3 separate regions of the Homo sapiens genome follow, and all the other regions are linked to region 1. The links come from fine-mapping of genetic effects on gene expression. Tissue or cell type: whole blood. Region 1 holds a variant in brackets; each other region holds the start of a gene. All regions are shown on one strand. Distances are between the middles of the regions.

Region 1 (8,104 bases):
TAAGAGGGCAGCATGGGACTGCCCCCATTGCCCCCAGAGAGTCCCCTCAGTCATGGGCTCTGACCAGGGTGCAGGTGGGCCCAGCAGGCTGGCCCAGCATGGGTGTGGCTGCCCATTGGTCCTCTGAAGAGCCTCAGGGGCTTGTGGCAGCAGGTGTATGTCTGGGCTTGGAAGCAGAGGATGTCCCGCAGCCAGAAGGCAGGGGGCACTTGTTTTGCATTCCAGTCCTCTGCAAGGACAGGGACCCCAGGCTCTGGGCACCCCAGCTCTGCCCACCCTACACCCACAGCCTACCACCATTTGGCCCAGGCAAGTTGCCCCAGCTCCCACAGAGGGAGCCACCCTTCCCACCTCCTGATGTTTGCCCACCCCAGTCAAGTTCCATTCTGGAAAAACCCTCCACATCCTTGGGAAGGCACCTCCTCCTTGACTCCTTTCCAGTGCTATCATCCCCACGTTCATTTTCTACCTATCATTGGATGCAGAGACCCGCTTCTTCCCTGGGCCAGGGCTGCTCTGGAGGCAGGGAGGTTGTGACCAGGCTGTGGGGTATAGCAGAGCACCGGGTATAGACCAGACTCCCCAGGCACACCTGGGCAGAGAAGTCAGAGACCCACAGGTGAATGCCCCTCTTTCCAGCCCCACCCACCTCACAGGCAGAAAGAGGGAGGCTTCACAAGGAGGTTGAGGTAAATAGGGAGCCCGGGTCACCTCTGTCTGATCTCCTGCCCTCCTGGGACAAAGCCAGAGGTTGGAGCTGGGAGGTGTTGAGAGCCCTGGCCCAGCCCTGGTTTCACTGATGAGGCTCAGGGAGGGGCTGGGTCAGCCTAAGTCACTGGGTCCATAAGGAAGGGCCCTTTCCATAACCCAGGACCCTAGAGCTAGCCGAGGCCACATCCCTTTCCCACGTAGACCAAGTAGGGGCATGAACTGGCTTCTGGCTTCTAAGGCCGAGGCCCAGCACACCTCTCCCTCCCCTTGCCTGCAGCTGTTGTCACACATCAAAAGTGCTTTTTTTCCCCCAAGGTGCTGGAGGCGCAGCTCCTTGGGCTGGACCAGGTGGCCAATCCAAACAAGTCCTTGTGTGTCCCCCACCAGCCAGGAATTCTCATGCCATGCAGCAGCTGGGGGCACTAGGATACCCTGGGGGATTCCAGGGATGAGCCCTCCCTGAGGCTCCTACAGCAGCACTGCCACCCCCAGACCTGCCACCAGCTCCGTTTCCATGCAGCCTTCAAGAACCTGGCCCCTCACACACACCTGCCCCACTCCTCACACCTGGCTTTCCTGTGAAACGTGGAACTGGTTCCACCTGGGCCAGCTGGAGAAGGGCCTCAGGAAATCACCATTTAGGGGGTTCGTTCCAATCATTCATTCATTTATTCACCAAATACCCACTGTCCACCTTTCTGTACCAGGCCAGAGGTGATGGGTCAAGCAGAACACATGTCCCAAGGAGCTTTCCTCTCTTTAGAGACAGGCAGGTGGACTCTCACACCATGAGGTGCCCTCTGGGCTAGGGGGTGCCCAGGGCTGGATGCAGGGGCGGCCCTCGCCCACAGGAGGTGCTGGTGGGTACTGACGTGGAGGCCACCAGGGGGTGAGGGTGTCCAGACAGAGGACCTAGCATGTGCCCAGGCCCAGGGTGTGACCGGGGGCAGGTGCAGGGCTGCTGTATCTGGAAGGCTTCCTGGCTCTGCCAATGATAGGCTGTGGCTGGATCAGGCTTCATGTCAATTTTTAACATTTAATAAATTTTGATTATGTAACTAAACATTGTGATAAAAATTGTGAAATATAAAAGCTAAAAACACAAAAACCAGCAAACCCCTTCTCTCCCCAAGTAACTACTTCAACAGTATTTTCAGACTTTTTTTCTCATGTATCTGCAGCTATAAACATAAGCTGCACAAGATAGTATCCTTCCCCATATTCTACTTTGGAGCTGGATTTTTCACTCAGCAGTGAATAGAGGCAGGCTTTAAACAGGCCACGCATTGTGAGGGCCCTGGGAAAGGAGACTGACCATGTTGCTGGGTGACCTTGGGCAAGTCTCGCCCTCCTCAGAGCCTGGATTTCCTCAGTCCGGTGAAGGGCAGGAAGGGCTGCAGTAGGACTACATCAGCGCTTCCCAAACTCAGAACCGCCACGTGGAGCTGTGTGAGCTGTCACTGCACAACCCCAGGGGCAGGAGCATTCTTGTCACGGCCTCTGTGAGTGGGGCTCCTGCCCAAAAGTGTGCTGTGCCAACCTGGGGCCCACAGGAGGATTTTAGGCGATATGCGGATGAATTGATTTTTACCATTTCCTTCTATCTGTAGTGAATGAGACCGATTCTCACCGGGAGGGCGTGTTAAACCACAGGTCGCTGAACCCACGCCTCAGAGGTTCTGATTCAGGAGGTCTGGGGTGGCGCCTGAGAATCTGCATTTCTAACAAGTTCTCAGCTGATGGGGATGCTGATGCTGCTGGCTCAGGGACCACACTCTGAGAACCACTAACCACAAGTTTCCTTTTATTCATTTATTTATTTAAGGCAGGGTTTTGCTCTGTCACCCAGGCTGGAGTATAATGATGCAATCACAGCTCACTGCAGCCTTGACCTCCCAGGCTCAAGCAATCCTCCTGCCTCACTTCTTGAGTAGCTGAAACCACAGGTGCATGCCTCCACGCTGGATTTTTTTTGTTTTTTGTAGAGACGGAGTTTCACCATGTTGCTCAGGCTGGTCTCAAACTCCTGGACTCAAGCAATTCACCTGCCTTGGCCTCCTAAAGCAAAAGTTTCCTTTTTAAATACATTTATTTAGGTTTTAAAAATGAGTTGACTTAAAGCACAGGAATAGATCTTCAACACTAACCACTGGGGAAATGCAAATTAAAACCACAGTAAGATATTACTACAGATCTATTAGAACAGCTCAAATCAAGCATAGTGATAGTATCAAATATTGGTGAGGATGCAGACAAAACTAACTCTCATACATCGCTGGTGGGAATATAAAATTTTACAGACACTCTAGAAAATAGTTTGGCAGCTTCTTTAGTTAAACATACACCTCAATATATGACCTAGCAATTGCTTCTGGGCATTTGTACCAGAAAATAAAACTGATTTTTGCACAAAAACTCATACATGATTGTTCATGGCAGATTTATTTGTAATAGTCCCAAACTGGAAACAACCAAATACTCCCCAATAGGTGAATGGTTAAGCAAACTGCTACATCTATTCTATGAAATACTATTCAACAATAAAAAGGGAGCCAGGCATGATGGCTCATGCGTGTAAACTCAGTGCTTTGGGAGGCCGAGGCAGGCAGATCACCTGAGGTCAGGAGTTCGAGGCCAGCCTGACCAACATGGTGTAACCCTATCTCTACTAAAAATACAAAAA[G/C]TTAGCTGGACATGGTGGCGGGCACCTGTAATCCCAGCTGCTCAGGAGGCTGGGGCAGGAGAATTGCTTGAACCTGGGAGGCAGAGGTTGCAGTGAGCTGAGATCACACCATTGCACTGGGCAACAAGAGCAAAACTTCATCTCCAAAACAAAAAAACAAAAAGCCAGCTATGATGATGGGTGCCCATAATTCCAGCTACTCAGGAGGCTGAGGCAGGAGAATTGCTTGAACACAGGAGGTGGAGGTTGCAGTGAGCTGAGATCGCGCCACTGCATTCCAGCCTGGGTGACAGAGTGAGACACCATCTCAAACAGAAAAAAACAATAAGGAACATGCACAACTTGGATGGATCTCAAAGGGCATTTGCTGAGTAGAAAAAAAAAAAAAGCCAGTCTCAAAAGGCCACATACTGTGTGATTCCATTTATACAATGTTCTTTTCTTCTTTGGTTTTGTTTTATTTTGTTTTTGAGATGAACTCTCACTCTGTGGCCCACACTGGAGGGCAGTGGCATGATCTCGATTCACTGCAGCCTCTGCCTCCCGGGTTCAAGTGATTCTCATGCTTCAGTCTCCCAAGTAGCTGGGAGTACAGGCACGCACCATCATGCCTGGCTAATTTTTGTATTTTTACTAGAGACAGGGTTTTGCCATGTTGGCCAGGCTGGTCTCAAACTCAAGGCCACAACAGTTCCACCTGCCTCAGCCTCCCAAAGTGCTGGGATTATAGGTGTGAGCCACCGTGCCAGGCCTTCATTCATTCATTCATTGAGAGATTCTCACCCTGTCTCTCAGGCTGGACTGCAGTGGTAGGGTCACTGTAGCCCCCACCTCCCAGGTTCAAGTGATTCTCCTGCCTCAGCCTCCCAAGTAGCTGGAACTACAAGCTGGTGCCACCACGCCTGGCTAATTGTTGCATTTTATAATGTTCTTGAAGTGAAAAGATTATAAAGACAGAAAGCAGATTAGTGGTTGCCAGGAGTAGGAATAGTGGAGGGGAAGAGCCAGGAATGAGTGCAGAGGAATAGCAGGAGGGGGATTTTCATGGTGGTGGAACAGTTCTGTGTCTTGATTGTAGTGGTGGTTAAAGGAGTCTACATATGTGATTAAATGGCATAGACATGACATTGTTAGATATTGTCCTACATTTATACAAAATAGAACCTTTGGAGGAAGCTGAGTGAAGAGTACATGAAACCTCTCTGTACCATCTTTGAAATTTCCTCTGAATCTATATTTCCAAATAAAAGGTTAAAATTTGTAAAGTTGCTTTAGACAAAAATATTAAAAATAATATTGATTCTATGCAGGTCTGGCAAACCTTTGACACATTGAATGACTGGCATCTCTAACCCATCCAATGCACAATTGCCCCTGGCCAGGCCCTGTCCTAGGCTAGGTCACCTGCTGGAAGATAGGACTCTGGACTCTCTCCTGCTTGGCTTTGGGGTAGAGATGCTAGATAAAATATAGGACACCCAGTTGAATTTAGATTTCTGATAAAAAATCAACTTTTTTTTAGTAAGTACGTACCATGCATATTTAGGACATACTTATACTAAAACTTATTTCTCTCTATTCTTTTTTCACCATCCTTCACAGGTGTTGATATTTCTCTAAATTCTTTAATGTATGTACAGTTACTTTAAAGCTCTTGCCTAATAATTCTAATGTGTGAGCCATTTATGGGTCTTTTCTTTTTCTTTTTCTTTTTTTTTTTTTTTTTTTGAGATGGAGTTTTGCTCTTGTAGCCCAGGCTGGAGTACAATGGCGCCATCTCAGCTTGCTGCAACCTCCACCTCACCTGGCTGGTCTTGAATTCCTGACCTCAGGTGATCTGCCTGCCTCAGCCTCCCAAAGTGCTGGGATTACAGGTGTGAGCCACCATGCCTGGCCCTTTTTGTTTGTTTGTTTCTTTGAGATAAGGTCTCACTCTGTTGTCCAGGCTGGAGTGCAGTGGCATGATCTCAGCTCACTGCAACCTCCACTTCCCAGGCTCAAGCCATCCTTCCACCTCAGCCTTCCAAGTAGCTGGGACCACAGGCACATGCCACCAGCAGTCCTGGCTGGTTTCGTGGAAGACAATTTTTCCACAGACGGGGTTGGGGGTGGTGGTTACGGTATGAAACTGTTCCACTTCAGATCATCAGGCATTAGATTCTCATAAAGAGTGTGAAACCTAGATCCCTCGCATGTGCAGTTCACATTAGGGTTCACACTTCTAGGAGAATCTAATGCCTGCTGATCTGATGGGGGGCGGAGCTCTGGCAGTAATGCTCGCTGCCCACCACTCACTTCCTGCTGCGCAGCCTGGTTCCTAACAGGTCACTGACTGGTAGAGCCCACAGCCTGGGGGTTATGGACCCCCACACACCACCACACCCAACTCATTTTTGAATTTTTAGTAGAGATGAGGTTTTGCCATGTTGCCCAGGCTGGTCTCGAAGTCTTGAGCTCAAGTGATCTACTTGCCTTGGCCTCCCAAAGTGCTGGGATTACAGGCATGAGCCACCATGCATGGTGGGTCTGTTCGTATTGACTGGTTTTCTCTTAATTTTAGGATGTATTTTCTCACTTTTTCACTTATCTAGTAAGTATTTCTTGATCTGTTGGACATTGTGAACCTTCATTGTAGAGATATGGATTATGTTATCCTACTCTAGTGTTGAGTTTTGTTTTGCAGGGAATTAAATTACTGATGGGTTAACTTGATCATGTGTGTCAAGGCTACATTTTAGGCTTTGTTAGGGTGAGCTGTTTTTCAGTTTTGCCCTTATTCCTAGGGAATCTTCCTTAATCCCAAGGCATGGCCTTCTAGGCCCTCTGTGAATGTCTGGGATATTCATCAAGACCTGAGATTCCAAGAGTGGAGACTCTGGTTGAGCCAGAATTCGGGTGTATCCCCAGCACTCTGTGACCACTGAAATCGATGTTTAGCTTTCAGCTCCCCATCGGCTGTTCTGTGCTGGGCCTTGCAGAGTCTCAATCCACACATTCGTAGTTTGGGATTTGGCCAAGGACCTGCAACAACCTCTATAAGATTTCTGGGGCTCCTTCTCTGCAACTCCGTCCTTTCTGATACTCTGCCACACACATTTTAGCAGCCCTGAGTGGCAGTCCCTGTTTCCTCCACCAAACAAGACTGATCCTCTTGGCTTGGACTCTGCTTCCTCATGCTGTCATTGAGGGTTTGGAAACTTTCCCCACCAGAAAAATGTAGCAGTCACTTCATGTGATTCCCTTCTCTCAGTTTGTACCTGGAACTGCCTATTGCCCAATGCCTGAAGACAATTTCTTCATGTACTTTGTCCAGCTTTGTAGTTGTTTATGCTGGGAGACCATCATCAATTCAGGTACTCCATCATGGCCACAATTCGAAGTATGATTAATATCATATTCATTCTATTCTAAAAGTAGAGAAGACAAAGACCAACAATTCTAAGAAAAATTGAAAAAATATATGAAAGTTCAAAGAAAAATGCAAATGCCACTGACACACAGGAAAAAATGTTTAACTTCACTGATAATAAGAAAGATACAATTTTAGGCTGGGCGCAGTGGCTCACACCTGTAATCCCAGCACTTTGGGAGGCTGAGGTGGGAGGATCACTTGAGGCCACGAAGTGTAGGTGGCAGTGAGCTGAGATGGTGCCACTTGGGGTGACAGAGTGAGATCCTGTCTCAAAAAAAAAAAAAAGATATATAAACAACATCCTGCAACCTCTACATGTGGCCATGATTGATAACAGGGACCAGATTTGCCTCCCACCTTGAACAACTAGAAAAATGGAACAACATATATAAAACAATAGTTTTCGGACATTGGAGAACAGGTCGAGCAGAACTATGATCCCTAAAAGAAGGTGAACCCTACAGTGTCCTCAGTTTACTGCCGGAAGCAATCACAGGCTCCAACACAGCAGGGGAAATCCAAAGTCCAGTGACGTGTACACCACTCTTGAGCTGTTTTCTATTAACCTCCAGGTCCTTCAGGCCAGCCCTCCTGGGGCTCTGCCTTGGGAATTGGTATTGGTAACAAAGGGAATAGAGAGGAACATGCATAGAGCTCTCCATTTAGACTGACATATTCACACTGGGTTCCAGTTTCAGCTGAGAGACTGTAAGCACATCGCTAGCCCACTCTAATCCTGTATCCTAGCTGTGTAATCACCTATTTCCCATCAATTGCAAGGCTGGAGAGAAAAGTGCCCACTCTGGCCAGTACACAGTAGGAGCTTAGTAAGCTTAAGCTCGCTTGCTTCCCCACTATCCTAACGTATTAGGGGAAAGACAGAGATGTGGGGAATGGCACCTGGGAGGCTCCAGCTGTATGCTTCACAATCCTACCAATGAAAAATCTGAATTAGGCTTCAGTTTCCCTTCTACAAAATGAGACAGGACAGGAGTGGGTAGGAAGAGGAGGAGCTGGGCTTTGTTGGTTTAAGCTGGGCCCTTCTGATTCTGTAACGTGAACTTCACTGTTGGGTCCAGCCCATTCCCCTGCCGGGGCTTCGCGTGCTCTGTCTTTTGGCCAAGTCCAAGTCTGTCCAGGGTTGGGGTGGGGAGAAGCAGTTCCCCCATATAACCTGCAGGTGGCACCAGAGCCGCGCGGGAACCGAGGGTTCTGTTCCAGCCTTCCTGGAGACTCGGGCAGGGTGGGGTAGGGCGAGGCAGAGGTGGTGCACACCGCTCAGCTGGGCAGCGGCACGC
Region 2 (8,104 bases), 180 kb after region 1:
TCTGAGCCTCAGTTTCTGCATCTGTAAAGTGGAAATAGGCCTCTCTGAAGGGGACAGTGTGAAGAGCAAATGAGATAAGGTACAGGAAGTCTATAGGCCCCAGCTGATAGGAAAGAGTACAACAGCTCCATCCACCACCCAGGTCCCAAAGGCATCTCCCCAGAGTCGGTAGCTCTGCTGTCTTTCCCTTCTCTGGAGTCACCAAACACCCTGCCCACCACTACACCCTCAGCTGCCCTGGGAGCTACAGCCCTATGTCTGAAGGAACCCTTTCTTACACTTTTGGAGAGCAAGTGCCCCATCACTGCTTGGTTCCTGACAGTACACAGGGACACAGGGACAGGTCTTCCGGCAAAGGTCAGGTCTGGGTCATGAGGAGTGGAAGGGAGGGAAGGAGAGAGGGGGCCTAACCCAGGAGTGATGGGCTCTCAGAACATTGGCAGCAGAAAACAGGACAGGCTGGGCTTTTACAGTAGAAGCCCAGACGTTTTCCCAGTTAAGGCTTGAGTTCTGCCTCCGAGCCTATATTCACCCTATTCCCCAACTGGAGTGCCCTCTCCTCTTTCTCCAGGTTGTCCAAACCCTTTCTCCAAAGCTCAACTCAAGGGTGACTTGTTCCAGGTAACCCACCTGCCTCCCATCTCCTACATGCCTGGTCTGCCTGTGCCAGCTGTCAGGAGCCGAGCCATGGGCCCTCCCAGCTCTAATGGAAATGGCTCTCCATCCAGCTCTGCCAGCTCAGGCCTCAGCACTGCCCAGGGGACCATCACACGGCTCAAGGTCAGTCTCCAGTGATCTTAGTTGATCCCCACAAGAACCCTGTGACATGAGCACAGCTGGGTTAGTAGTTCCCATTTTAGAGGTGGAGACACTTAGGCCCAGAAGGGAACAGTGGCTTGCTAAGGCCCACAGCATCAACTACCCAGCTGACTTGAATCTAGGGCTTCAGAATCTTTGTCTAGAGTTCTTTGCTCTCCTGGAGCCACGCCTTAACAAATATTTGTTCATTCATTTGACAACATCCTCCAAACATCTCTTTTGTGCCTGGACAGAGGCCATACAAGAAGGAAGCTGGAGTGTAAACAGTGAGGTGCCCAGTATAAACCATTCTGTGGCCACACAAGGGACTGGGGATGTATATGTGTCAGGCTCCCTGAGTACTCCCAGCTGAATGGATTGGTGGAGAGAGAGTCAGGGAGCCCGTCCCAAAGAGGTGAGGCCTGGCCTGGACAGAAAGATGGGCCAGACTAGGTTAGCAAAGGAGCAGGGAGAGCAGCAGGAGAACAAGGGCCAGAGGTGAGGGAGGGCTTGGCTAGAAGCCCTTCAGTGTGCCTAAAACTTTGGGTGCAAAGGGAAAGGGAGTAAGAAATGAGGCTGGAGGCCCGGCGCGGTGGCTCACACCTGTAATCCCAACACTCTGGGAGGCCAAGGCAGGTGGATCACCTGAGGTCAGGAGTTTGAGACCAGCCTGGCCAACATGGCAAAACCCTGTTTTTACTAAAAATACAAAAATTAGATGGGCATGGTGGTGGGTGCCTGTAATCCCAGCTACTTGGGAGGCTGAGGCAGGGAAAATTGCTTGAACCTGGGAGGCGGAGCTGGGATGCGGAGGTTGCAGTGAGCCGAGATCACACCACTGCACTCCAGCCTGGGTGACAGGGCGAGCGAGACTCCGTCTCAAAAAAAAAAAAAAGGAAGAGAAAGAAAGAGATGAAGGAAGAGTGAGAGAACTAAGAGGGCGGGTGGCTGGAGGGGGATGGGCAGGAGGGGCGCAGGAGGGAGCAGTCAGACCTCCAGTTTGCAGGAGACTGAGCAGGCCTAGCCCAGGGCCCTGGCTGTCGTGATGGAGGAGGGGACCTCCAGGTGACCCACAAAAGAGGCTGAGTCACAGGCCTTGTTCTTAACTGAAAACATGGGCTGAGGGAGAGCAGAGAGTTGAAATGGCTGGAGGAGCAGCAGTGGGTGTTGGAGAGGCTGTGACCCCTGTTTTGGAGTTTGAGGGGTCTGGGGGATGGCCGTACAATGCAGAGGAGTGTTCTGGACAGAAGCTTAAATGTTGGGAATCACCGGCACCGGGAACCAAGAGGGTGCACCCTGCCCAGGAAAGGTTAGACTACCAGGCTGGGAGGTCCCAAGAAACCCTAGGTGTCACTTAGGGGAGAGGGTGCTGTAACTCAGGCTCACCCCCACTCAGCCCGGGCTGGCAATGGCTGGCTGGAGAGCCAGAGGGTAGGAGATGTGGGGCTCTCAGGTTTCACAGCTCTCATTTCTCCCACCCCGCCTGGCAGGGTCTAGCTAGGCTCTGGCAAAGAATCAGAACATAACACTGGGACTGGCTCCGATGAGTAACCCAATGCCAGGCTGGTTGGAGTGGGAACCTGGGCTCCCCACCCCCATGAAGCTACTCCTCACTTCTGAGCATGGCTTGCCTGCTTGCCCCTGCCCACTCCCAAGCCTTTATCCACGCTGTCCCCTCCACCTGGAATGCCTCCTCTGGGCCCCACTGGGCAAAACCCGACCTATCTTCCCAAGGCCTGCTCAAGTGCTGTATCGTTTCTGGACTTTGTCCCCCTTCCCTGCTGGCCTCCCACTGCCCACTAGTGCCCTTCCCTAGAACACACTCCACCACCTGCCTCTATCACAAGGGCCACACACTGGAGGTGAGAGTCTGTCTCTGAGTGTCTGAGACTGAGTGCCTTGGGAACAAAAAGCACACATGGCCCAGCCCAGCCCACTCCCAACTAAAGAAGTGAGCCTAGGAGTCAAGATTCGAAATCCTGTGTGAGCCCTGAATGGCTCCTCAGCCTCTGTTTACACGTCTGTAAAATGGGCTAATAATCCACCTCACTGTGATGATCAAGTGAGTTGATGCGTAGAGGGCATCAATTACTGTGCCTGGTACACAGCAGGTGCTCCATAAATGCGTCTCCCCTCTTCCTTCCCAGGGCCTCACCTGGGGAGCTGAGAAATCCATTACTGACAACTAGGGCTTCTAGGAGGAGAAGGGGCCTTTGTTTTACCTTCACCCACATCAGAGGACCCACACTTCACACCTGCTTTCCTTCACAGCCAAAGTAAGCACTGATGAAGGCAACAAGTGCCTATGGAGACCCTGTTGGTGTTCCTCCTGCCCAGTTACACAGGCCACAACACAATCCTGCCCCCTCCGCCTGGGGAGTCAGGGGAGAGGCATCAGATGTGGGACTTGAAGGGTGAAAGAGATCCTCTGGAGGGGGGAAAGGCATCCAGGCCCAGGAAATGGCATGGGCAGAGGGAGAGAGGGAGGGAGGAATGAGCCTGGTGAGCTGGAGCAACTGCAAATGGTTTTAAGGCGGCTGCCATGCAGAGGGCAGGGAAGGGACCTGGGGAGACTGAGGCTGCAGAGATAAGCTGAGCAATTGGCCAGGGCTCCGGGTAAGCCAAGGGGTTGGGCTTCATCCTGCAACCACAGCGAAGTTTTTACCTGGGTGGGACGGTATTGGGATTCCAGATCTGGAAAGCTGGCTCTGGAGGCAGGAAAACCTAGAAAGGTCTAAGGAGGTGGCTACTGAGGGCCTAAGGGAGCTGGGAGAGGTGGCCCTGGAAGGCTGCTACCGGGCTTGCGTTCTTGCTCCAGTTATCTCCATGCTGGGGTCAGAAGGAGCGAACCCCAGCCGATAAACAAGACAGTCCCAAGGGAAGACTGCATGTGGGGACTGATGCACCCCACTCCTAGACCAGACAGGACGCCAGCTCTCATTTCTGCTTTACAGAGACTCGCTCTCCTGGGCTCCTTCCTGGGGCTGGGGGGCAGGGAGCGGGGAGGGCGGTCCTCCGTCCAGCCTAGTTTACTGACTCCCTCTCCGGGCCAGATGGGCGCTGGAATGGGTGGCTGGAGAGGGGTTCGGGTCCTGCCTAGGGCGAGAGTAGCTGGAGAGAGGCGCGCCTGAGAGGTTCTTCCAACTGGAAAGAGCTCTTATTCCACCGGTGGGGAAACTGAGGCACGGCGAGGGGAAGTCACCGGCCCAAGGTCACGCGTCGAGCTGAAGGCAGAGGCAGGGTTTGAACCTGGGAGAGCTGGCTCTCGGGAGGCCTCGGCCAGCGACCGAGAAAAGGGAGGGGCGGCGGGGCGGCGGGGCCTGTGTTGGGGGCCGGGCGCGCCGAGCTCACCTGGTAGTTGTCTAGCTGCTCTTCGGTGAAGATGGTCTGCTTGTTCCCCATGGTGGCCGCCGCGCCGCCGCTCGCCCGCCCGGGCTCCGACTCCCATCAGCGGCCGCCAGACCCGGAGCCAGCGCCCCGTGCCCGCGGCCCTCGGCAGCCCCGCGGCTGGCAGCGGCCCACGGTGGCCGGACCCTTCCCGCCCCGCAGCTCGCCTGGAGGAGGCGCGCGGGGGTCTCGGAGGCGGGGACGGGAACCCGGAGCGGCAGCGACTCCGCCGCCGGCGGGAAGAGGGCGGGGCACCCGGCTCCGCGGCTGCAGCGCGCCCGGGTCCCGGCAGGAGGCGACCTGGCCCCGGGAGACGCTGCCCGGCACGAACCCTTGGCTCCCGCGGCCGGAAGTGCTGGGGGCGCGCGGGGGTCTCGGAGGCGGGGACAAAGACCCGGAGCGGCGGCGACTCCGCCCCGCAGCAGGAAGAGGTGTGAGCCCGGGTCCCGCCGTGGGAGTCCAGGTCGCACGGCGTGAGGGTGCGGGGCCTGGGAAAAAACCCTCTCGAGGCGGGCAGTGGGGCGAGTGGCGCCCCTTGACCTGGGGCGGGGGCGGCAGCGAGGACTGTGAGTGCGTGGATCTAGCTGGGGCCGGGCTCCGCCACCGTCTCGCGTCGCGACCTTGGTCAAGCCCTTACCCGGGCCCTGTCCCTCTGGGGAGAAGGAGGGGGTCAGTCAAGCTGACATCTGAGGCCCTCCCGGCCAGGCCTCGGGAAGCCCATCTGGCCTTTGGGCGCGGCCTAGGCAGGGCATCTCAGACCTTCTGTGTTCCTTAGGGAGCAGGACAGGATTTACTTGGCTTGGTTACAAACGTGAGACTTGAGAGGATTTAAAGGACTTGACTGTGTCCACAGAAGTGTGACAAAGGCCAAGACATTTTTTGGAGCTTTTAAGCAGATGCCATTGTAAGGGAAGCAGGACTTTACCTCTGCCCTCCTAGGGTCTTTGGCTGGGCTTGAGAATTAATTTGGCATAAGACAGATTAAGGGGAGAAAAACAGATTTAATACAAGTTTTACATGACGTGGAAGCCCTCATAAGGAAATGAAGACCCTGAGAACTGGCAAAATCTAAATACTTTTTTTTTTTTTTGAGATGGAGTCTCCCTCTGTCGCCCAGGCTGGAGTGCAGTAGCGCGATCTTGGCTCGCTACAACCTCCGCCTCCTGGGTTCAAGCGATTCTTCTGCCTCAGCCTCCCCTAGTAGGTGGGACTACAGGGGCATGCCACCACACCCAGCTAATTTTTTTTTGTATTTTTAGTAGAGAGAGGTTTCACCATGTTGGCTGGGCTGGTCTCGAAATCTTGACCTCAGGTGATCCACCTGCCTCAGCCTCCCGAAGTGCTAGGATTAGAGGCCTGAGTCACCACGCCCGGCCAATTATTGTATTTTTTTTGTAGAGATGGGGTTTTGCCGTGTTGCCCAGGCTGGTTTTGAATTCCCAGGCTCGAGCAATCCACCCACTTTGGCTTCTCACCCAAAGTGCTGGGATTATAGGATGTGAGCCATCATGCCCGGCCTCATCTCCTGTTTTTTAGAAAAAGAAGGATGATCAAGAGTGCCCTTCTTGCATCTGCTATTTTTCAAGTGCCTTTAACTCAAATACTCAATATGCCAGAGCAGCATATGTTGTGGTGGCATGTTCTGAACTCCTTCCCCATCCACCAAATGGAGTCACCGCTATCTTTTTGGGGTCCAGCCCATACAACTGTTATTTCTAAACTCAGGACAACTGAATCAGTAGGTATTATCTCCATATTATAGGCAAAGAGTTGGGCTGAGAGAGGTTCAGTAACTTGCCCAGGGTCCCACAGCTGGGAATTAGTAGAACCTGGACTGGACCCAGGCACTGGCTCAACATACCATTCCACAACTGCCAGTGGACTTTGAAGAGATCAGGATTTTTTTTTATTTATATATATAAAAAAAAATAGAGATGGAGTCTCACTATGTTGTCCAGGCTGGTCTCCAACTCCCAGGTTCAAGTGATCCTTCTGCCTTGGCCTCCCAAAGTACTAGGATTACAGGCGTGAGCCACCATGCCTGGGCGAGATCAAGACTTTATGCTTTAAAATGCGTGGTTTGTTACTTTAGGATAGTGGTTCTGAAACCACCTGGGAGCATGTATCAAAATTACTTGGGAGGCTGCACCCCTAGATTTTCTGATTTAGAAGGTCTGGGGTGGCTAAGAATGTGGGTATCGAAAGGGTTCCTGGGTGACACTGATGCAGCTGGTCTTGGAACCATACTTTGAGAGTGCTTAGGCTGCTGAAGCTTGTGGGTTCTGATGGGAACAGGGCTTCAAGTTTGGCAGATGATCCCTCATGCTTTTAGTTTTCTTTTATATCTGAGGCTACTGGTTGGGGTTTTCCAACCTTATTTTGCCACTCCCTGGTGAGAACAGCAGCCATCAGCTAAACAGACATGTCACCCTGTTAAAATCACAAGAGTCTTCAGAGGCACCATCAATTGCTATCAGAGGGGTAAGAAGCAATTCATTAGCCTGGGGATTGGTGACCAGCCTTCAGGGGTCACCTCACCATCTTTTCATCATTGTGGACACATGCAATAGGGGCCTAACCCATGGGAAAGAAGGCAGGATGTGTCCCCAGAGATTTGGAGCATGTGGAATTTTAGAGCAGAGAAGGCACATTTAAAAGATTCTCTCTTCTGTACCTCCCCTTTTTCCTGTGTTGGAGTTGGGGAAAAGGAAACCCTTTTGAAACCACATAACCACTATTACACAAGTTTTCCTTCTTCCCATCTTATTAGATTCCACACTGTGCATGAACAAGCCAGAATTCTGTGTGTTCAGATCCTGCTCTGGCGCATTCTTGTACAATTGCTAACATGCTGCTTATTTGCATACCAGGTGTTCCAGGTAGAAAATCTGGAACCTATACAAAGAGGACTGTGTTTTCAGTCCCGGGAGCCCTTCCTCTCATAGGAGAGAAATAGAGGTAACCAACTGAACTAGAAAATTCCTCTCAAAAATCCTTTTAGGCCAGGTGCGGTGGCTCACACCTGTAATCCCAACACTTTGGGAGGCCGACACAGACGGATCACCTGAGGTCAGGAGTTTGAGACCAGCCTGGTCAACATGGCGAAACCCTGTCTCTGCTAAAAATACAAAAAATTGGCCTGGCGTGGTGGCGTGCCTGTAGTCCCAGCTACTCAGGAGGCTGAGGCAGGAGGATCACTTGAACCCGAGAGGCAGAGGTTGCTGTGAGCCAAGATCGTGCCATTGCACTCCAGCCGGGGCGACAAGAGCGAAACTCCATCTCAAAAAAAAAAAAAAATCTTTTTGGATCATTATTACCATGGCCTATCTGAAGCTCTCTCTCTTGAGCAATGCTGTGAGGAGGGGCAAGGAACACAATTCCCATGTTACAGATAAGAAACCTGGGGCTCAGAGAGGCCAAATGACTTGCCTGATGCCCCCCAGCTGGGAAGTGGCAAAGCAAAGCTCTAACGTCGTTCTCTGATTCCAAATCCTGTGCTTTAGCTGCTCCCTGATGTTGAGTGTGGTCCCTGAGGAGCAGAGTGTGTGTGTTTGCTGGGAGGGAGGATGGGCCGAGGGAGAAGAATAAAACATTACTGATTACTTATCTAGTGCCCAGAATTGTACTGGATGTGCTATATTTACTGAATTTGATTATTCCACAATAGCCTCCTCAGTCTGTGGAGTTTCATATTATTATCCCATTTCACAGGTGAAGAAATAGTTTCAGAGAAGGTGACTTGCCCAAGGTCACATAGCTGGTAACAGGTAGATTTAAATCTGGGCCCTGACTCTTTTCTTTTCTTTTTTCTTTTTTTTTTTTTTTTTTTTTGAGACAGTCTTACTCTGTCGCCCAGGGGCATGATCTCAGCTCACTGCAACCTCTGCCTCCCGGGTTTAAGTGATTCTTCTGCCTCAGC
Region 3 (8,104 bases), 120 kb after region 1:
CAGAGGCAGGTGGATCACGAGGTCAGGAGTTCGAGACCAGCCTGGCCAATATGGTGAAACCCCGTCTCTACTAAAAATACAAAAATTAGCTGGGAGCGGTGGCACGCGCCTATAGTCCCTCAGCTCGGAAGGCTGAGGCAGGAGAATTGCTTGAACCCGGGAGCCAGAGGTTGCAGTTAGCAGAGACTGTGCCACTGCACTCCAGCCTGGGCGACACAGCAAGACTCTGTTTCAAAAAAAAAAAGGGAGCAGGGTTTTAGAGTCGGGGTGTTTTTTGCTTGTTTGTTTGTTTGTTTGTTTGTTTTTAAGGTGGAGTCTCACTCTGTCGCTCAGGCTGGAGTGCAGTGGTGTGATCTCGGCTCACTGCAACCTCCGCCTCCCGGGTTCATGCAATTCTCCTGCCTCAGCCTCGCGAGCAGCTGGGACTACAGCGTGCGCCACCATGCCCAGCCAATTTTTGTATTTTTAGTAGAGATGGGGTTTCACCATATTGGCCAGGCTGGTCTCGAACTCCTGACCTCAAGTGATCCACTCGCCTCGGCCTCCCAAAGTGCTGGGATTACAGGCATGAGCCACCACGCCCGGCCTTCTCCTCCCTTCTTCCAGAAAGCCTTGCCTGATTTCCATTCCCATTGTTGTATACAGCCAACACTCGGTACTATCTTATTCTGTGACCAATTTAATTTTACATGTCAAAATATTCCTCCATTGTCAGTAACCCAAAGGAAAATGTATTTCCTTTCTTTAAAAAAAGAAATATTCTGAACCTACAAAAAGATGGATAGCATAATAGGACAAACACTGATATACCTATGACCCAGTCCAAGAAATAAAACACTGCAAAACAGGAGAAGCCCTGAGGCACCCATTCCCAATCACATCCTCCCTCTTCCCATCACAGGCAACCACTACCTGGAAACCAGAGCTCATCAGCCCCATAAAGCTCTTCCCCTCGCGAAAGAGCATACATCCTTATGATCTGTAGTACTGTTTCACATGATCTTCCTAACCTTTCTATAAGTGGTATCATTCTGAACACAATCAGTGTGTAACTTACTTCTTGTTCAATTTTATTGTTTGTGAGAGTAATCCACGTTGACACCTATAGCTCTAGTACCTTTGTTTACTACTGCATAATATTCCACTATATGAATACACTACATATTTGGCCAAAGACACTGCTTGATGTTTCATATGCCATGTAGTGCCTACTATTTTCCATACCACTATGGAAAATGCGCCAGCCATTTTCCATAACATTCTCCAGAATCCTCACAGCCACCTAATGAGGAAGGTATGATTCCCACTAGACCAAAGAGGAAACTGGAGCAGGGAACTGGTGTAATTTGTCCAATATGTGTGAGCAGCAGACTCCTGCTTCAAGTTCAAGTCCATCGAAGTTTAAAGCCACACTTCTGACAATGCGCCTTGTAACCCTGCTTATGTAGATTCTTATTTATTATTTTTTTTTTAATTTTTTTTGAGATGGAGTCTCACTCTGTCACCCAGGCTGAGTGCAGTGGCGCGATCTCTGCTCACTGCAAGCTCTTCCTCCCGGGTTCACGCCATTCTCCTGCCTCAGCCTCCCGAATAACTGGGACTACAGGCACCCGCCACCATGCCTGGCTAATTTTTTGTATATTTAATAGACATGGGGTGTCACCGTGTTAGCCAGGATGGTCTCGAGCTCCTGACCTCGTGATCCACCCGTCTCGGCCTCCCAAAGTGCTGGGATTACAGGAGATTCAGATTATTTTAATGAAAAAAACTGATAGAGTTCTACAGTCATCTGGGAAAAATGTGAAACACGATGCTCTATTTTCTTTAACAAACATCCCACAGGAAATTCGTCCGACACAGGGACAGCCCGTATGTACACTGAGGAAGAGCCTCTGCCTTTGGCAAAGGTCTCCCACTAGGGTCATTACCAAGTTTATACAGGCACTCTCTAAGTAAGCCTGTGTAGGACTGCAACCCGAGTTGGTTTTCTTTGGGGAAACAGGCTGTCTGCACCCACTTACAGACAGGACAGGGGAGCCCAAGAGAACATGGGAATCAGATCCTGCTTGAACTGGCAAAAGCTGAGTCAGCAAAGCTCTAAGAACATCTCCAGGGAGCAGCTCCAGCTGTTAGCAGCTCTGGGGGTCTGAGGAACAGTCCTCAGCTCACAAGGCCAGGAGTTTGCCTAGTCTGCTCTCCGTGTGGCCAGCTTTGAGAGCACTTTCATACATCCCAGCCCAACCCTGTTGCTCTGGAGAAAGCCCAACCTGGAATACGGAAGAGGAGTGAGAGTGAGGGTGGAGACTCACAGAAACCAGGCAGGGAGCAAAGCCTGGAAAAAGGATACCCAGCTCCAGGCCTGGGCCCAGATCCCTCCAGATGCTCAAAGCAGGTGGGCCCCTAGGAGGTGACAGTCTAGTCCCCCAGAACTCCCAAGGACAGGGGAGGCCTTTCAGCACCAGGACTCCTGACTCTACTCTCCTGCTTCTACACTGTATCTCTCATTTTGTCTGTCCACTGGAGGATTAAGGGAGCCTCAAAGGAGCAAGGCATAACTGGCTGAAAAGACCCCCTCCCACCCATCCTGGACAAAGCAAGGAGGAAGAACACAGGATCTGCCACCTACTGGCTGTGTGACCTTAGCTGGAGCATCCCCGTCCACTCTGGAGGAAAATGTAGTGGACTGTCTCTAAGGGCCCTGCCATCTGACTCTTTCTGTCTACAGTGCTAAATGCACTCTGGCTCACGCCTGGCATCCCAGCACTTTGGGAAGCTGGATGGGGAGGATGGTTTCGGCCCAGGAGTTCGAGACTAGCCTGGGCAACATAGTGAGACCCCCGTTTCTTTAAAAAAAAAAAAAAATTTAATTAGCCAGGCGTGGTGGCCCGCACCTGTGGTCCCAGCTACTTGGGAGGCTGAGGTGGGAGGATCTCTTGAGCCCAGGCATGGAGGCTGCAGTGAGCCGAGATCGCACCCCTGCACTCCAGCCTGGACAACAGAACAAGATCCTGTCTCAAAAAGAATAAATAAACAAATAAATAAAAGCACTGACATTTACTGAGCAGTTTAAAGTATAATTCATTTAATCCCAACACCCCATGAGGTAGATACTACTGTTATCCCATTTTACAGAGGAGGCCGCTGCAGCCCAGAGCGGTTCACTGAGGTACCAAGGCCATAGGCAAAGTTCTAAAGGAGGCCCCAGGGGTAGAAGCCTACGCTCACGGATGCCTGGGAAGGCTGCACAGGACATCCACGGGATGGTGGGGGTCGGGAGACACCAGAGACTGGCCCGAGGTTAGGCGCAGAGGGAGATAATGGGTCAAGGTGTCTGAGAAAGGAGACGGGGCTTGGTAGCCCCAGCGAGACTGGCCTAAGCCCAGATAGTGGGGAGGAGATAGGAACGAGGGCGGGATGTGGAGAAGCAGGGAAAGGCAGGCCGACGTGGGCAGGGGCGAGGAGGCCTTGGAGGAAGGAGGGTGGATGGCGCAAGCCAGTGGCGGAGGCAGGGGACGCCGGCGGAAGCGCGCGGGCGGCTTTGGGGCGAGCGGTCCCACCTTGAGCACCGTGACGGCTCCCGCGCTGTGCACCTGGAAGTGCGCGGGCGGCTCCGTGCCCGGCTCCGCCGCCTCGTCGGGGCCCTGGTAGCTGAAGCAGGCGTCCGCGATGTCCAAGTGGCCGAGGGGCAGCGCGTCCTGCGGACTCTTGAAATAGTAAAGGTAGCAGCGGCGCGCGTCGAACACGAACCAGCGGCTGCGGTAGCCACGCAGGGGGCCCTTGCCCGACAGCTTCTGCAGATAGCCACACAGCCGCGCTGGCTCCCGCGCCGGACCCGCCCCGGGCTCCGCGGCCGCCCCCTGCGCCGCGCCCTCGCCGCCGCCGCCGCCCTCCTCCGCCCGGGCTCCGGCCCCCGGCATCGCTACCGCGCGCCAACCGTAGGCGCCCGCGCCCTGCGCCTCCGCGCCGCGGCCGCTGCGCCCCCTACCCCCTCCGCACCGCCCCTTCGCTCCGCACGGCCCGCGGGCGCGCAAAGCACCCTGGGACTTGTAGTCTCGCCCCCGCCCGCCCGCCGGCCGTTGCCCCCTCAGCCCCCGGAGGCAGGGTCCTGCGACCAGCACCCCGCGGGTCAGTTGCCTTCGTGCCACCTGGGCTCCAAGTCCTCGCCCTGCCGGATGAAGCAATGGTCTATTTCTTTATGGCAGTGTAGGTACATGGGAGTGTGCATCTCTCAAAACCCAGCGGAGTGTCCGCTTAAAACTGCATTTCACACTGTGTATCTTATTCTAAAAACTTGATATTTAAATCTCCCTCCTGCCAGAGTCTCAAGCTAATATTGTAAAAATGAGACAGCCTATTGCCTGGTGCTGAGTGGGTGCTCAGTAAATATTTGCAGAATTCATGAAAGCCAAAGCGTTTCCTGCCTCTCCAGACCTCAGTTCATTTATTGAATTCAACATATATTTATTGAGCGCCTTCTGAATGCCGGGTACGGTTCTGTATGCCAGGCCCTGGCGGATACAGCAGTGAACAAACCAATCATTCTCCTGCCCTCGTGGAGGTTATATTCTAGTAAGGCAGGGAGGTGACACACAAGAAAGCAGATAAAAGTAATGTGTGCTATGTTGTATAAATGCCGTGATGACATGTAAATGATTACCGCTTAAAATAGCACCTAGTATTTATCAGTGCTTTATAGACTAACTTATTTGAACACTCACAACCTGAGAAGGCAAATCTATTGCTTTGTAATAAAGCAAAGAGAAAGAATGAATAAGACCAAGTATTTGCTAGCACAACAGGGTGACTACAGTCAAAAATAATATAATTGTACGTTTAAAAATAACCAAAAGAGTATAATACAGACGCGGTGGTTCACGCCTGTAATCCCAGCAGTTTGGGAGGCCGAGGTGGGTGGATCACCTGAGGTCGGGAGTTCGAGACCAGCCTGACCAACATGAAGAAACCCTGTCTCTACTAAAAATACAAAATTAGCTGGGCGTGGTGGTGCATGCCTGTAATCCCAGCTACTCGGGAGGCTGAAGCAAGAGAATCTCTTGAACCCCGGAGGTGGAGGTTGCAGTGAGCCGAGGTTGCGCCATTGCACTCCAGCCTGGGCAACAAGAGCAAAACTCTGTCTAAAAAGAAAAAAAAAAGTATAATAGGATTGTTTGTAACACAAAGGATAAATGCTTGAGGTGATGGATACCTTACTTACCCTGATTTGATTATTATGCATTGCATGCCTGTATTAAAATATCTCATGTAACCCATAAATATATACACCTACTATGTTCCCACAAGAATAAAAAATAAGTAAAAAGCAAAGTGAGAGGATGAAGTGATGGGGGGCAGATAGCAGGCTGCTGCCCCAGGACAGGCAAGGAGGCTGGTCTGATCCTGTGACATGGAGCACAAACCCAGATGATGGGAGGGACAGGGGCAACCAGAAATGTGGGTGAAGCATTCCAGGGAGAGGGAATAGTGAGTACAAGAGCTCACTTTATTCAAAGGAAAAAGGAAGTGTATAGCTACATAGCTACATTTGTGAAAGCCCAAACCAAATATCTCACCCTCATAGATTTGCATGTTTTATACAGACACACTGAAAGACCCAGGTGGAAAACTGACCTTTCTGAGCTGGACAGGGACACAAATTAGACTGCCTGTTTGGAGCCACCCAGGTAGGAAGGGCAGGTTCTGGGTCCTCACCCAGCCTGCCGACTCTCTGCAGGCCCTAAAGTGGCACCACGCAAGCATTCCTTTCCTGGGGCCCATCAGAGGTGTGGCTGACCTCTCCACCTGTCTTTGAGCACAATCAGCACAGTGTTAAGGACTGGGCTCTGACTTCACACTGACCAGATGTGTCTCCTAGCTCTGCCACTTACCAGAGGCATGACCTTGGGCAAGTGATTTAACCTCTCTGGGCCTCAGTCTCTTCATTTATAAAACAGGGTTGATAAATACAAGTAGCTATCTCGTGCTGTTGTTATTGAAAGGGTTACGTGAGAAATGCATATGAAAGTGCTTAGCACGGTGCCTCACACATAGTAAGCACTCAGCACATATCAGCTGTTATTATTATCATCTTGCAGTTAACACCGATGTCTTCCTCATCAGTCAGCAGATTCGGAGAGGGGGAATCCAACAGTCAGACCGGGCCCAGACAAGGGAGGCCAGACACTGCGGTGCTGCGGGAGTGGAGTGGGCTGCTCTCGGGAGCAAGGGGTCCCAAGTTCAATTTGGGCCTCACCATGTATGTAAAAGGGGCTGTGACTAATTGGCTTGTGGGGTAGGCAGTCAGGGTGAGGTCTGACCTTGAAATACTGTGGGAAAGGGAAGAGCTGGGAGAACCCGGTCTGTATTGCCATGGTACAGGGAGGCAACAGGACAGGGGAGGGTGTAGCCCATCTCTCCTAGATCTATCAGTAAGTTATAAGGAAGTGGGGGTGGCCATGACCTGTGGTCCCAGTGGACAGGACCAAGCCCCATGAGGTGTCTCACGGGGGCCGATGTCTGCTAGGCCCGAGGAAGGCATCCTTCACAGGCACAAGCCACGAGCCCCCCTCCTGGACTAAGAGTCTGGGCTGGCTGGCCAGGGCTAGGCAGATGGGACGGGACAGGGGTGCTGTTTTAAGCGGTAATCATCTACATGTCATCACGGCATTTATACAACATAGCACACATTACTTTTATCTGCTTTCTTGTGTGTCACCTCCCTGCCTTACTAGAATATAATCTCCACGAGGGTAGGAGAATGATTGGTTTGTTCACTGCTGTATCCGCCAGGGCCTGGCATGCAGAACCGTACCTGCTGTCTGTGCCCCTCAGTGGGCAAGCTGGACTTCAGCCTGACTCCCCTACACCTGAGCCTCCAATCCTTCCCTGGTCACCCAGCACAGATGAGCTGGGGCCATTTTAAAATGCTTGCAGGGCTGAGTGTGGTGGCTCACGCCTGTAATCCCAGCACTTTGGGAGGCCAAGGAGGGCAGATCACAAGGTCAGGAGTTTGAGACCTGCCTGGGCAACATGGTGAAAACCAATCTCTACTAAAAATACAAAAATGAGCCAGGCACGGTGGCACGTGCCTGTAATCCCAGCTACTCAGGAGGCCGAGGCAGGAGAATCGCTTGAGTCTGGGAGGAGGAGGTTGCAGTGAACCAAGATCGTGCCACTGCACTCCAGCCTGGGTAACAGAGCAAGGCTCTGTCTCAAAATAATAATAATAATAAAAATAAATAAAATGCTTGTAAGCCACTGCCCTCTTCCTTCTGGAGGCCACACCTGACATCATATCAAACATATTAAAATGCTCTACATCCCGTAGTAAACATATACATAATTTTTGCTATGAAAATGTTTTCAGGAATATCCATAATTGTGCTCTTGATATTATCTAATTATGAGTTTTCATTTTCATTTTTAATTGGCTGATTTCTTGGCAATCATCGTGTCTGTGTGGGAATTTTGGCCAAGTGAGAGAAACCTAACCTAGAAATTGTTCTCAAATGTAATGACCTTTTTTTTTTTTTTTTTTTTGGAGATGGGTCTCATTGTGTCACCCAGGCTGGAGTGCGGTGACGCTACCTCAACTCACTGCAACCTCCCCCTCCTGGGCTCAGGCAATCCTCCCACCTCAGCCTCCTGAGTAGCTGGAACCACAGGTGTGCGCAGCACCACGCTCAGCTAATTTTTGTATTTTTTGTAGAGATAGGTCTCTGCTATGTTGCCCAGGCTGGTCTCAAACTCCTGGTCTCAAGTGATCCTCCCACCTTGGCCTCCCAGAGTGCTGGGATTAAGGCATGAGCCAAGGTGCCCAGCTCTGTTATGACATTTTTATGATGACTATAAAGGTGACATGTTACATTTGTAGACATTTAATTAGATGTTCATTAATTCTAATTTTGCTGTTTTTCTTGGGTTTTAGAGCCAATACATTTTTCTTAGGCCACAAACATTTCACAGGCCTCTCAAGCAGGCAGGCCCAGGCACTGAGCTTTTTAGTATATTAGGGGATAAACTGGCCTGGCCCCTGCCTCGGTCTGGCCGGGTCCAGAATATGGCCCTCTGAGGAGGCTGCACAGACACAGGCCTGAGTCCCCAGTGA

What was found. PIP is the estimated chance that this variant, and not a neighbour inherited with it, causes the effect.
Region 2: CIB2 starts here. The variant in region 1 is fine-mapped to the expression of CIB2 in whole blood (TOPMed, PIP 0.91).
Region 3: TBC1D2B starts here. The variant in region 1 is fine-mapped to the expression of TBC1D2B in whole blood (TOPMed, PIP above 0.99).

What each region holds. Positions count from the first base shown.
Region 1 is chr15:77,951,576-77,959,679 of GRCh38, forward strand. No RefSeq gene overlaps it. Among named protein-coding and RNA genes, the nearest start is that of TBC1D2B, 120 kb to the right of the region's middle. RefSeq lists an enhancer at 74-574 and a silencer at 7,832-8,104. The variant G/C (reference allele first, on the strand shown) is at 3,395.
Region 2 is chr15:78,127,016-78,135,119 of GRCh38, forward strand. CIB2 (calcium and integrin binding family member 2) reads right to left here and starts at 4,430. Exons shown (of 6, transcript NM_006383.4): 1 at 4,150-4,430. The coding sequence starts at 4,200. RefSeq lists a silencer at 4,135-4,654.
Region 3 is chr15:78,073,736-78,081,839 of GRCh38, forward strand. TBC1D2B (TBC1 domain family member 2B) reads right to left here and starts at 3,976. Exons shown (of 13, transcript NM_144572.2): 1 at 3,558-3,976. The coding sequence starts at 3,917. RefSeq lists silencers at 3,452-3,651, 3,852-4,061, 4,212-4,261.